Homo sapiens: one gene and its partner. The protein of the gene in region 1 interacts with the protein of each later gene in a pairwise test. Each region holds a gene or a part of one and is shown in the gene's direction. Other genes may lie near its edges.

Region 1 (7,027 bases):
GGCTGGGTGGGGTGCGCCTGTAGTCCCAGCCACTCAGGAGGCTGAGGCAGGAAGATCACTTGAGCCCAGGAGTTCAAGGTTACGGTGAGCTATGATTGTGCCACTGCACTCCAGTCTGGGCAACGGAGCAAGACCCTGACTCAAAAACAAACAAAAGAAAAAGAATAAGGGGAGAAGAATACCTGGATTTTTACCAGGGTAGCTCAGTTTCTGTGGCCCTAGCAGCAGGGGCCTGCCTACCTCCAGCAAAAACACTTCCTTCAAAGATCAGATATTGGCTAGGTGCGGTGGCTCATGCCTGTAATCCCAGCACTTTGGGAGGCTGAGGCGGGTGGATCACGAGGTCAGGAGATCGAGACCGTCCCGGCTAACATGGTGAAACCCCATCTCTACTAAAAATACAAAAAAATTAGCCGGGCGTCGTGGCAGGCGCCTGTAATCCCGGGGGCTGAGGCAGGAGAATGGCGTGAACCCGGGAGGCACAGCTTGCAGTAAGCCGAGATTGCACCACTGCACTCCAGCCTGGGCCACAGAGCAAGACTCGGTCTCAAAAAAGAAAAAAAAAGATCAGATATTAGAAGCTTCCTTGGGCGGGCTGGGTGGAGGCCAACTGGGGTCATTGAGGCAGGCGCTGAGCCACGTTTCTCCCATTAGAAGCCTAAGGGGCCTCAGTGACCCTGACTAATGCCTGTAGCATCAGCTTGGCCTGGGCAGGTGGTCACCAAATCCGAATGTCCAAGCCACAGTGGGACCAGGAGAGGAGGCCCAAGCTGAGGAAACAGGGAGGCAAAGTCCTGTTCCTAAAGTTCAAGGCTGAGATCTGTCATGGCTGGGATCTCTCCTCTGCTTCCAGAATGGGCTAGTAAGTCTCTTTCTTCATTTTGGATTTAGTCCCCCGGTGACACTGCCTGATGAACTAGGTCAGAGGTCATGCCTGCTTGTGCTTAGTTTCTGCCCTTTGAAGGGGGTAGTAGCTACCTGGGAGGTGGGAAAAGTGTCAGGGATGGCGGCTTCCCAGAGGCACTCCCAGATGGCTCTGTGGGTTTCCTGGGATGTCCTTCCTTACCCCATCCTGGCTCCAGGCCACCCAGACTGGGGTGCCATGTCCCTGCGCTCCAGGGAGTGCCAGAGGGCTGTCCTGGCTGAGGGCCCAAGGGCCAGCAAACCCCAGCCCCAGGGCCCTCCTTTAGCCTTTGTTCCTCTCCCCCAGTGAAGAACTCGCTCTACCAGTTCTGGGACTGAGAGTCATGGCCACATGTTACCCTGCAGCTCCCTGGGGTGGGGTGGGGGTGTTTGCTCTGGGAGTGGGCTGGGGTATGCCTGGACCTTGGTGAGGCATGCGACCCCAACTCTGAGTTTGGAGAGTTCCACGGGTGCTCAGCCCTGCTCTGTGGCCAGGCTGAAGGGGTCCCCAGGACTGAGCGCAGCTTCAGTGGAACAAATATTGGCTGAATATCTGCCATATGCCTTACTGGCAAGGTCAGGGACTGATGGGGCTTCAAGGCACGTGCACCCAGACTGTGGAGGCAGGAACAACGCAGGGTGGGGGTGGGGTGGGGCCGGAGGTTCCCAGGTGGGAGCAAGCAAGCCTGGGGCTCTGGGAGGCTTCTTAGAAGAAGTAGCTTCAGAGACCAGAATTATTATTATTAAATATTTAGAGACAGGGTCTCACTCAGTCATGCACGCTGGAGTACAGTGGCACAATCACAGCTCACTGCAGCCTTGAACTCCTGGGCTCAAGTGATCTTCCTGCCTCAGCCTCCTGAGTGGCTGGGACTACAGGTGCGTGCCACTACACGTGGCTAATTTTTTCTTTTTTTTTTTGTAGAGATAGTCTCACTATGTTACCCAGGCTGGTCTTCAACTTCTGGGCTCAAGTGATCCTCCTGCTTCAGCCTCCCAAAGCTCTGGGATTACAGGTGTGAACCACTCTGTCACCGAGGCTGAAGTGCCATGGTACGATCCTGGTTCACTGCAGCTTCCTGGGCTTAGGCAGTCCTCCCACCTCAGCCTCCCAAGTAGCTGAGATGACAGGTGTGTGCCACCATGCCCAGCTAATTTTTTTGATTTTTTTTGTAGAGATGGTATTTCGTCATGTTGTTCAGGCTGGTCTCAAACTCCTGGGCTCAAGCAATCCATCTGCCTCAGCCTCCCAAAGTGTTGGGATCACAGGTGTGAGCCACTGTGCCCAGCCATTATTATTATTATATTTTTTATTTTTTTGAGACGGAGTCTCACTCTGTCGCCCAGGCTGGAGTGCAGTGGTGCGATCTTGGCTCACTGCAACCTCCGCCTCCTGGGTTCAAGTGATTCTCCTGCCTCAGCCTCCCCCAGTAGCTGGGATTACAGGCATGTGCCACCATGCCTGGCTAATTTTTGTATTTTTAGTAAAGAGGGGTTTCACCATATTGGCCAGGCTGGTCTCAAACTCCTGACCTCGTGAGCCACCCACCTCAGCCTCCCAAAGTGCTGGAATTACAGGCGTGAGCCACCGCGCCTGGCCTATTATTATTATTATTATTTTTGAAATGGAGTCTCACTCTGTCACCCAGGCTGGAGTGTAGTGGCACGATCTTGGCTCACTGCAACCTTCAACTCCCGAGTTCAAGCGATTTCTGCCTCAGCCTCCTGAGTAGCTGGGACTACAGGCATGCACCACCACACCCAGCTAATTTTTGTATTTTTAGTAGAGACGGGGTTTCACCACATTGGCCAGGGTGGTCTCGAACTCCTGACCTTGTGATCCATCTGCCTTGGCCTCCCTAACTGCTGGGATTACAGGTGTGAGCCACCTCACCTGGCCATTATTACTTTTTTGAGACAGAGTCTTGCTCTGTTGCCCAGGCTTGAGTGCAGTGGTGCCATCACAGCTTACTGCAGCCTTGACCTTCTGGGCTTATGGGATCCTCCCACCTTAGCCTCCTTAGAGGTTGGGCAGGCCCACCTGGTGAATTTGTTTTTATTTTTTGTAGAGATAGGGTCTCTACAAAAGCCATGTTGCCCAGGCTGGTCTTGAACTCCTGGGCTCAAGCAATTCTCCCACCTTGGCCTCCCAAAGTGCTGGGATTACAGACATGAGCCACCACGCCCGGCCCCAGAATTATTTTTAAATAAGATATATATTTTTTTCTGATGATAAGAGTAACATGTATGAAGTGCAGGCTTGTGGTGGTAGCAGGGACCTCAGGTTTTATTGGCTGTAGGATTTCAGAGAAGGAAAAAAGCTGTGTTGGAGAAAGCAGGAAGGTGTCTTGCAGGAAGTGACACTCAGAAGGAGCCATAAAGGGATGGGCCCGAGGAGGTGCGCGTGCCTTGGACACTCTGGTCCCTTAACAGATGAACATTCAAAAGGAAAAAAATAGTAACATGTGCTCTTACAGAAAAACATAAAGAAAAATATAAAACCACCCAGAGAGAGAGTTGCTACTAACATTCTGGTTCATTTTCTTCTAGTCTTTTTTTTTTTTTTTTTTTTTTTGAGACAGAGTCTTGCTCTGTCACCCAGGCTGGAATGCAGTGGCGCGATCTCGGCTCACTGCGACCTCTGCCTCCTGGGTTCAAGCAATTCTCTGCCTCAGCCTCCTGAGTAGCTGGGATTACAGGCACCCGTCACCATGCCCAGCTAATTTTAGTGTTTTTAGTAGAGACGGGGTTTCACCATCTTGGCCAGGCTGGTCTTGAACTCCTGACCTTGTGATCCACCCGCCTCAGTCTCCCAAAGTGTTGGGATTACAGGCGTGAGCCACCTCACCCAGCCTCTTCTAGTCTTTTATTCATGTATAATTTAACATGAATTGTGAGCATCCTAGACGAAGTTTTATATCTTGTGTACTTTTTTTTTTTTGAGATGGGGTTTTGCTCTTGTTGCCCAGGCTGGAGTGCAGTGGCATGATCTTGGCTCACTGCAACCTCTGCCTCCTGGGTTCAAGTGATTCTCCAGCCTCAGCTTCCCGAGTAGCTGGGATTACAGGCGCCTGCCACCACGCCTGGCTAATTTTTGTATTTTTAGTAGAGACAGAGTTTCACCATGTTGGCCAGGCTGGTCTCGAACTCCTGATCAGGTGATCCACCCACCTCAGCCTCCCAAAGTGCTGGGATTACAGGCATGAGCCACTGTGCCTGGCTGGGCATGTGTGTTTTTAAGGCCTGTTGCCTCCGTGGGAATGGATTTTGGAATGCATTGTTGTGGGGAAAAGGGGAAGGGGGAAGAGAGAACAGCTTGGGTGAAGGTCAAGAGAAGAGATGGCAGGGTGGAGTCCTGGAGTAGTAAATGCAGGTGTATGTGTGTATGACACGTGTGTACGCATGTGTGTCTGTGTGCACGTGTGTAAGGCATGTTTCTGTGAGATCTTGGCTGAGTGCTGGGCTGAGGTTTGGACTTGTCCCAGCAGGCAGTGGGGAGCCCCTGAAGGGCTCTGGGTGAGGAAGCAGTGCCTGTGGCAGCGGTGCCGTGGTGCATGCAGGATGCCACCTCGGTGCATGCGTTGGCAGCAGCATAGAGGCAGGGTTGAAAGAGGTGGATTTGAAGTTGGCAGCCCTGGCAAGGGCAGCCTGAGCTGCAGCGCTGGAGGTGGGCGCTGAGAGGGGCGTGTTGGGGTCAGAGAGCCACAGAGGTGAATTCACCAGATGTGGCAGCTGTTTTGGGTGTGCTGTGAGAGGGCAGAGCCGGAGGCCTGTGGCGGGCATCCTGGGTGACTGGAAACGGAGTACAAGTCACCTTTGTCTTCTTCCCATGGAGAGAGGGCATGGTCTTGACCTGGATCCCTGAGCATTTGACCTAATGGTGTGGCCTGGGGCTGTGCCCAGGTGGGGAGGTCAGCCTGCTTTGCCAGGGGAGGATGGTGACTTAACCAGGGTCACACACCTCCTCAGGGGTGGCGTTGGGCTTTGGCTGACTCTGTGCCTAGCTGACCCCTGACCATGCATGCCTGGTGTCTCCAGCCTGACTGTGCTGTCCAGGGGTTGTGGTGGCTGAAGTATGTCCCCCACCCATGTGGGATGGCTCTGGGACCCCAGCAGGTAGGGGGACTCTGGCTTCCCTCTCAGGGTCTCTCCTGGCCACAAGTTGGGCAAAGTGTAGGCCCTCTGGCCAGGAGTTGTGTAACTCTGGACCCTTGGTCCCCCCACAGCCCGTGGAAGCCACCGATGATGCCTTTTGGGACCAGTTCTGGGCAGACACAGCCACCTCGGTGCAGGATGTGTTTGCACTGGTGCCGGCAGCAGAGATCCGGGCCGTGCGGGAAGAGTCACCCTCCAACTTGGCCACCCTGTGCTACAAGGTGAGGGCTGCCCAGTCCCTCCTGCTACTCTTCCACCCTCCCAGCCCACAGCAGGAGAAGGCAGGCGCATCCAGGGCCTCCCGCCCCACAGGGGCAGGCAGCCCTGTGGCCTCACTCAGCTCTTCCACTTCTCTGTGGTTCTCTTTGCTGGGCGTTGGGACCACGGCAGCCGTCATTTATGGGGGAGTCCTCCAGGCCACATCTGACTGAGCACCTTCCACAGATCAGTTCATTTAGCTCCCTCTGTGGGGTGGGTACTGCCAGGGTCGCCAGTTTACAGATAGGGAAACTGAGGCTGGGAGACTCACTTAGCAAGGCCTCAGCCATCCAGTGGCTAGCTGGGCCCTGGCTGTCCTGATGCTCCAAGCTGCTCTGGCCTGTGTCCCAGTCCCCCAAGGCTGGCCGACCCCAACTCCAGGTGGCTCCTCTGCCTGTGGCCCCACTGTCTCTCCTCTGCAGCCTGGGTGCCCCCCCTGACCCTCCTCTGCAGCCTGGGTGCCCACCCTGACCCCAAGTGCCAGGGTCCTTTCCCCACCTTCCAGCCTGCCCTCTGCTCCTGCCTGCCCCCACAGGCCGTTGAGAAGCTGGTGCAGGGAGCTGAGAGTGGCTGCCACTCGGAGAAGGAGAAGCAGATCGTCCTGAACTGCAGCCGGCTGCTCACCCGCGTGCTGCCCTACATCTTTGAGGACCCCGACTGGAGGGGCTTCTTCTGGTCCACAGTGCCCGGGGCAGGGCGAGGAGGGGTCTGTGGGCCTGGCCAGGGCTGGGTGGGAGGCAGAGTTGGCGTCACAGGGAGAGCGCCCTTTAGGGCCGGCCATGCTCCTCCAAGCCTCTTCTGGGATTTGGGAAGTACAGGGGTGGGGCCAGTGGGTGCTGCTGAGGGATGGTGTTCAATGCCACCTCCTTGGGCCCTCAGTTCCCCTCCCATGGGGGTTTCTGTGCCCACAGTCTGGAGGAAGTAGGGTATGGAGAGAAGCTGAGAGCCAGGGGTCACTGGGCAGAGGTGGAGGCAGAGGAGCTGGGCCCTCTGAGGGCCGGAGAGGGACCACACTGTCCTCTCTCCCCCACACCACCTGCCCTGGGTTTATGTCCAGGTGAGGTGCTGAGGGATGCAACACAGTGATTCCTAGCAGGGCTGAGACTCTTGATGTTGGGGTCACCGCCCGGCCCCCTCCAGTCAGTAGGGGAGGTTCCCTCGCTGTTCCCGGCCCGGCTCCCTGCTGTGCCCCACTTCTGCCTTGGGAGGTTTGGGGCAACCAGGAGTCCACTTCCTGTCCCTTCATTCCTCTGCCCATGGGTGCCCGCCTGGGCTCAGCCCCTGTCCTCCACCACCCCCAAGCCCTGGGCCACCTCTTCCTGGCCAGCTATCACTGAGGCAGCCTGTGGGTGCTGTGTCCCCAGCAGGGAGAAGAGGATGATGAGCATGCCAGGCCCCTGGCCGAGTCCCTGCTCCTGGCCATTGCTGACCTGCTCTTCTGCCCGGACTTCACGGTTCAGAGCCACCGGAGGAGCACTGTGGTGAGTGTCCCCCAGCCCCCCACCCCCAGGCGGAGTAGGCTCTGGTCCTGGGTTGGGGCCGGGCCAGTTGAAGTTCCCTTGGGCGGATTGCACTGGGGGCCGGGGGGCTCCAGGAGAGCTGAGCTGCCTGGCACATGTAGGCCTGGGTGGCAGCTGGTACAGCTGAGGGAAGCCAGCTGGGGCTGGCCCTGCCCGCTGCGTTCGGATGGCTGGGCACAGACACCCATTGT
Region 2 (7,027 bases), on another chromosome or scaffold:
CTGTAATATGGTTACTAGAATTATAATTACACTGTATTTCTGTTGGAAACTGCTGGTCTGTGGTGTTTTCTGATGTGTCTAGAATGTTTCTTCAGCATCTTCCCACACTGCCATTTGTCCTGCTTAAAACTATTAGGTTTCTGGGTGTATATATAAGCAGTTAAGTGATAGATAATTTTAAATATCTCAGTAGCTGTTTAGATAATTAATCCAGCACAGTTGTTACTACACAGATACAAAAAGATAGTTGTGTCAGTTTGATTTTTTATTTTTACTCAACAGATGACTTAGGTTGGTTAATTATCTAGAGTTTATCGTTTACCTTAGATCCTAAAGTAAAAATGAATTAAGACCTATTAAGCACTTCAGTTATAAAATGTGGTGCTCAATGAAATGTCAGGCAATAGAGAAACTTTTCAGTCCTATGCTACCTATTTGGGTCTTTGTTTTTTCCTGCCTAAAAGAAGATACTGCCTAAAGGAAGTGGGTTAGGTGAGCAGACTTTTGTAGACTGGCTTAGCCTTTCATTAACTTTTCCCGAAGTGAGTGCTGCACATACTTTCAAAATAATAAACTAGGTAGTGTGATACATTTTAGATGGATTACTTACCACATAAATGTGTTAGTTTAACCTCTTCATTTAGTGCCGACTATGTCATGGCTTATGCTAGGCCTTTGAGGTAAAACAGCCGAGGAAGACATGAAATAAAACAGGTGGTGGCCAGGTGCAGTGGCTCACGCCTGTAATCCCAGCACTTTGGGGGGCTGAGGCAGGTGGGTCACTTGAGGTCAGGAGTTCGAGACCAGCCTGACCAACATGGTGAAACCCCATCTGTGCTAAAAATACAAAAATTAGCCAGCCAGGCCTGGTGGTACACGCCTGTAGTCCCAGCTACTGGGGAGGCTGAGGCAGGAGAATCGCTTGAACCCGGGAGGTGGAGATTGCAGTGATTAAGTAATAATACTATTTCCATGCTGAGCAAAGGGAAAAGGAGTTGATTACTTAGCACACAGTATGATTCTCAGATACACATTTAAATTGTTCCCTAGTGTTTTTATTGGTACCCTATGGTGGGTTTGTGGGGGCGATTGTTTTGAGTCAGCGTCTTACTCTGTCGCCCAGGCAAGAGTGCAGTGGCACAGTCATAGCTCACTGCAGCCTCAAACTCCTGGATTCAAGTGATCCTCCTGCCTCAGCTTCCCGAGTAGCTGGGACTACAGGTGCATGCCACCACACCCAGTGAATTTATTTTTTATTTCTAAAATTTTTTGTAGAGACAGCATCTCACCATGTTGCCCAGGCTGGTCTCAGACAATCCTCCCACCTTGGCCTGCCACAGTGCTGGGGATTACAAGCGAGAGCCACCACCCCAGCCCAATACCCAGTGTTTCATGCAACTTAAGTTTCAAGCTTTTAGGGGGATGGAGGAGATGCACTTGTGTTCCTAGGGTTAAGGCAAAAGAGGTGGTTAGTAGCACCAATTAATGTTAATCCGGGCATGAGTGGATAGCTATTTATATTAAACTGCCTGACCAATACCTTTAAGTTCTTCAGTAAGTGTTAATTTAATTGAAAAACATTTAGTTAACTATAGAAGCTGTGAAGATGTTAATTCGGCCAGTAAATTATTCATGACTGTTGGTGGGTTCGTTTGAGCTTTAATAGCTCCTAATAGACCTCATTAGTGCCTAAGAATGGCCCTGCAGTACTCCAGAGTTTCAGTTCCAGAAATCTCTTTTTTTGTGTTACTGAATCTTGGACTTGACAGTTCTTAATGTGATACGACAACCTGGAATGGGTTAATCCAGTTCAAGTGTTTCAAGATAACTTGTTTTCTCCATGTTGAGTTCTTTGGGTTCATTAATACACCTAAAGCATTAAGATAAAACCAATATACACAGTCTGTATTTTTTAAAGAAGAGATTATTTCTTGATTGGATAATTAAAACTATATAATTAAAGGTGGTATAACTGTTTACACTTGAATTGTGGCATAACTGTTTACACTTGAATTGTGGCGTCCTTTTGCTTATTAAGGATTAACTACCTTTTTCCTTTGGTTGTATATGGCAGCACTGGATTAGGTGCGAAAGGAGGCTGTGATAAAGAAATTTGAGTTTACCTCTCAGAAATTTGAAATAGAATTGGAGGAACAAGATACATAAAAACATGAAGTAAACAAAGTACAGAAATTGCTTGGTATCACTTGCTGCAAATTGCTTGGTGCAGGCAGTGGATGTTACTGCCCCATTCATTAGTAGGAATTAATGAATGAGTCTGCTGGAATGGTCAAGAAAGGCTTTTTTGTCACCTTGAAGATCACAACATAGTATTTTTTTGTGGGAAGACCCATATAAGCAAAGGTGGCTAGAATTCAGGAATCTCCCAAGAGTTGTGTTTAAGGATTAGGCGAGGTAATGGACTTCTGGTAGAACTGGAACACAGTAGAGAGTAAGGATGGAAGGTAGAATAGAGACACCTGGAATAGTAGTTCTTAATCCTGGCTGGAAGTCAGAAACACTTGGAGCAGGGGTTGGGGGGAGATAACAAGGCCTGGCACCTAACCTAGTGTAGTTAAATTTAGAATCTTTGTACGGGACTCAGGCTTTGATTTTGTTGGTTTTTGTTTGTTTGTTTGTTTAAGGTTGCTGGGGGTGGGTGGATAGCCAGGATTAAAAACTTCCCATCTAGAATGGTGGAAAAATAACTGAAGATGTTTGACAGGGGAGATGAGAAATGAAATTGGAGAGTTTTTGTTTTGTTTTGTTTTTTGAGACAAGGTTCTGATCTGTCTCCCAGGCTGTAGTGCTGTGTCACTATCTTGTTCTCTGCAGCCTTGACTTCCCAGTCCTAAGTAGCTGAGGCTCCAGGCGTATACCACCATGCCTGGCTAATTTTTTGTATTTTTAGTAGAGATGGGGTTTCTCCACGTTGCCCAGGCTGGTCTGGAGCTCCTGGGCTCAAGCAGACCTCCTGCCAAGGCCTCCCAAAGTGCTGGGATTACAGGCGTGAGCCAACTCACCTGGCCAAAATTCAAGTTTTTGATAGTCTGGTGGTGGTATGTGACAGAAAATGGAAAGTGTGCACACTGGAAGTTGGCGGATATATTAGACACCTGAGCTAAAATATGTCACTTAGTAGGATAAGAGATGAATACAAAAGATATAGCGAGGGAAATACTAACACAACTTGCAACATTGGGTATGGTGATGGAGAGGGGAAGAATCAAGATAGTTAAAGAAGTGGCCCTACCTCAAACCAGTTGTATTACTCTGAGTGGAGGCTGGGCATAGGTTTGTTTTTGTTTTTTTTTTTTTAAAGCTTCCCAAGTATTTGAGCACCATTACCCTGAGACATATATCTAGTCTGGGTAATAGGAGAATGATCTAAATAAAGTTGAAAGATCAGACAAGTGTATGTAACATTTGATATTTGAAGGAACATGGGATGTTAGAGAATAGAAAATGGCCAGATCAGCTGTTATTGAGTTTTTATTTTACATGTGAGGAAAGTGAAACTTAGAGAGATTAAATAACTTGTTCATGGTATTTACTAGTACCAGTGATTGCGATTAGGCTCTTCTGGTCTGAGCTATTTAATCAGCTCTGACCTCTCACCTGATAATCATTCTTCTGATGTTTTCAAATATCCATTTCTCAGCACGTACACCTTTTTCTTATCTCTGTAGAAATAATTTTCGTTAACACCATTTTGTAACTTTGGAGTCAGTGCAAAATTGTTGTTTATTTTATAGCTAATATAAAGCAGAAATGTGATTTTTACTGATAAATAAATTTTATTTCTCTTCTATAGACATTTCTCATCTATTTACTGCAGCAGTGCAAATGAGATTTCTGTTTGCTTACTAAGTCATCTCCTTTAGGATTTCAAGACTTAATACCACTTTCATCAAAAACTAAGGCACTGTTTCCTGTTACATCACGTTGAAATGCTTCATAATCGGGCTCCGCTACACCTGTCACACTACATATCCTATTTCACTTCAGCCCAGCTCTCTGTTCTAGCCAGGCTAGCCTGTTGATTTTCCTCTGAAACAACAAGCCACACATGTTGCCACAGGCATTCATGCAGAAGACTTCACTTGATGCTGGGCTTAGAAAATCATAGAATGCATGGTCGCTGCTCTGAAGAAAGAATTTAGTGGCATATTCTCGCTTGACTTATGTGCTGTTTCATGCCTAGAATACTCAGCTATTTTCTTTCTCCTAGAATTCTGCCTGATTTTCCAGGTTCACTTCAAATTCCACTTATTTAAAAGCCTTGGTTGCTTTGATGGACATGCAGTTGTGGATAAACAATAAATAATATTTCTAGATAGTCTGTGACATAATAGATACCTAGATACTAATTGAGCAAAATAATTTTTGGCATTTTTGTCCTATACTCTGTTTTTTTTTTCCATGTTTACATCTTGTCTTTTCAGCAAGATTGTCTATGCTCTCATGGCAGGGACTTCTTTTATGTTTTCCACAGAGCTAGATCCTTATAAAATACTTGCACTAAATTAAACATTATGCCATGTAACTGAGCTTATTTGGGGGAAGAGGTCAATAAAGACTATGGAATAATTTGAGGTCTTGGGTATGAGATACCAAAGGAGGTAGTTGCTAGTACTTGAGAGATTGCTCCAAATAACATCAGATGAGCATGCTTCCAAGTTTCCTGCATTACTTGCATGACCCATGATTCTAAGTTAATGAAATGAGTTTGTCCCTCTTCTCACCCACTGTCCCTGATTATTTTATGTATGTTATACTTAATGTCTTCATTTTTTACCTTTAGTATGAAGTGTAACAGAACAGACTTTACCACCTGAAACTGCTGCTTCAAGTTCAGATCAGGCAAGGAACAAACCTCGTAACAACTAACAAGACCAAAGAAGAGTACACTTAAGTTGAAGACACAACACTTGATCTGAAACAAGAAGTTTGTGCCTACTCAACAGCTTTGAAAGAGCACTTCCCAACGCTGCTAGTAGTCTTTGTTTTCTTCAGTGCTGTACTGTGAGATTGCCCGGTACAGCAGCAGTTGTATTCTTTATTAGCTTGGTAGATCATTTTCTCTCGCTCTTTTTTTTAATACTAGCAACTTTCATCCTTTGAAACGTGTGCTGAAAAAGAAGAATCAGCAAATACTACTGAAAGTGCAATATTTGAGTATCACTGCGAGGTAGGTTTGTAATTTCCTATTAAGAATCAGTTCCATAATTCTAGATTTCCTGATTATTTGGTCAAATATAAAATCTTTATTTGTTCTTTTCTAAAGGTATTCAGAAGACAGTTTTTCTATTCTCAACTAGTATGAAATATCAACACTATCTCTTGTTAGATAAGGACAGTATTTATGGTCAAACATTTTTCATACCAGATTATATTAATACATGCTGATCTCTCGACTTGCTGGTCTCTTAGAGAAGCTCCGTCTGTACTATTTAGAAGTTAGGATTTCAAATAAGAATGTGCATTGCAGTCTTTCTATGAGGGTCTGTGAAACTTTGGTGATATTTGCTACTGACGTCTGTTTCTTTCTCTCTACTGTCTTCAATGTTAGCTTCTTGAGGAAAGAACCTTACTTTATATCCATGCCTACATTTGCAGTGCATATTTGTGAACGGTATACAGTGCACATTTGTAAATGGTTGACATGCCTACTGTATTGTTAGGCATTGCTAGTGCTGAAATATAACGAATGAATAAGATACTAATGGACTTAATGATTTAGAACAATTTGTTACACAATATCACAATATAGGCTAAAAGATACTAATAAAATATTAAGAATATAACTGAAGCTGTTCCCTTGGAGGTAAGGAGGAGGGTAAAGAAAGCCTACAGAAAAGGGATATTTGAAGGTGAGTAGTACCTTGTTAAGAGGTAGAAGAGACATTGGTAGAGGTATAGAGGTAACAGAATTAGCAGATTCAGGGCTACGTGAAAGCACATGGTATATATTAAGTTGTTCATTATGAACAGAGTAGAGAATATAATTTTGCGGGAGAGTTATGAAAGGGAAGTTTGCTGGAGGCTTGGCCCAATGCATTTGTCTTTATTCCGTAGGAGAGCCATCAGATGTCTATAAGCAAGGGCTTAAGGGTTTTTCCCCCAAAAGTAAGATAGCTTTATTGCTTCACATTTTAAAGTAATATTCAGAAGTGTACCTTTAAAAGACAAATGGTGACACTTTTGAGGGAAAGGCTGAGGATGGGAAGACCTGTCAAAAGCAGTGGATCAAGTATAAGGAAGATAAAAGCTAAGGTGTAGGTAGAGAAAAAGGTAGGTGCTAGGTGTTCTGATGATTTAGAAGTGAGGACTTGGGGACCAATTGAATCTGAAGATAAATGTGGAGAGAATGGCTTTATCAAATCCAGTTGTGCAAACTAGAAACCTTCATTGTTCATAGGAATAGGGAAGTTAGAGTAGTAACTTACTGATATTAAAATATGTTATGGAAATCTATTGTGTTCATTAGATAGCAATCTGAAGTTGAAGGAAATACACTAGTATGGAATATTGAACAGTGGTTAACTTTGAGGGTAGGCTTATGAAGAGCAATTTTCCTTTTTAATCTTTAGTTTCCAGATTTTCTAAAGTTAGACATAAAGGAATTCAGAAAGGAGTCATCAGTGTATAGGTAATAAAAGGAAGAAGCACCAATGAAGAGAGCAAAGACATAGAAGTCAGGAAAAAGCACCAACGATAATTTCAGGAAGTCAATGGTAAACATTTTTTTAGATGCTACAGAGGTCAAATAAAATGAAGAATGAAAATAAGTCATTCAGTTACAAAAGCTTCACTGCTATTTCAAGAAGCGCTTAGGACTTTATTTCCAATTTATTGAAGGATTATGTAATAGTGTCAGTGACCTTGCTGTGCACTAGAATTATTCCTTAACAACTAAAAACTATAGTAAAATTATCTATGTCTCATAAACAGACACTGTTATTTAATTTTAAGGTAATTGTAGCATTTAGTTTTTCTATTTGTTTCTTCTTACCTTAGCTGATTT

Evidence for each region. The genes of interacting proteins can lie anywhere in the genome.
Region 2: the proteins of HID1 (region 1) and CSDE1 interact in binary tests that used the Homo sapiens proteins (3 or more experiments, as listed by UniProt).

The regions. Positions count from the first base shown.
Region 1 is NC_000017.11:74,962,735-74,969,761, reverse strand, and holds part of HID1 (protein HID1), read left to right. Parts: intron 1-5,129; coding exon 5,130-5,279; intron 5,280-5,851; coding exon 5,852-6,022; intron 6,023-6,680; coding exon 6,681-6,797; intron 6,798-7,027. UniProt on the Homo sapiens protein: May play an important role in the development of cancers in a broad range of tissues.
Region 2 is NC_000001.11:114,747,985-114,755,011, reverse strand, and holds part of CSDE1 (cold shock domain-containing protein E1), read left to right. Parts: intron 1-4,804; 5' UTR 4,805-5,191; intron 5,192-7,027. UniProt on the Homo sapiens protein: RNA-binding protein involved in translationally coupled mRNA turnover.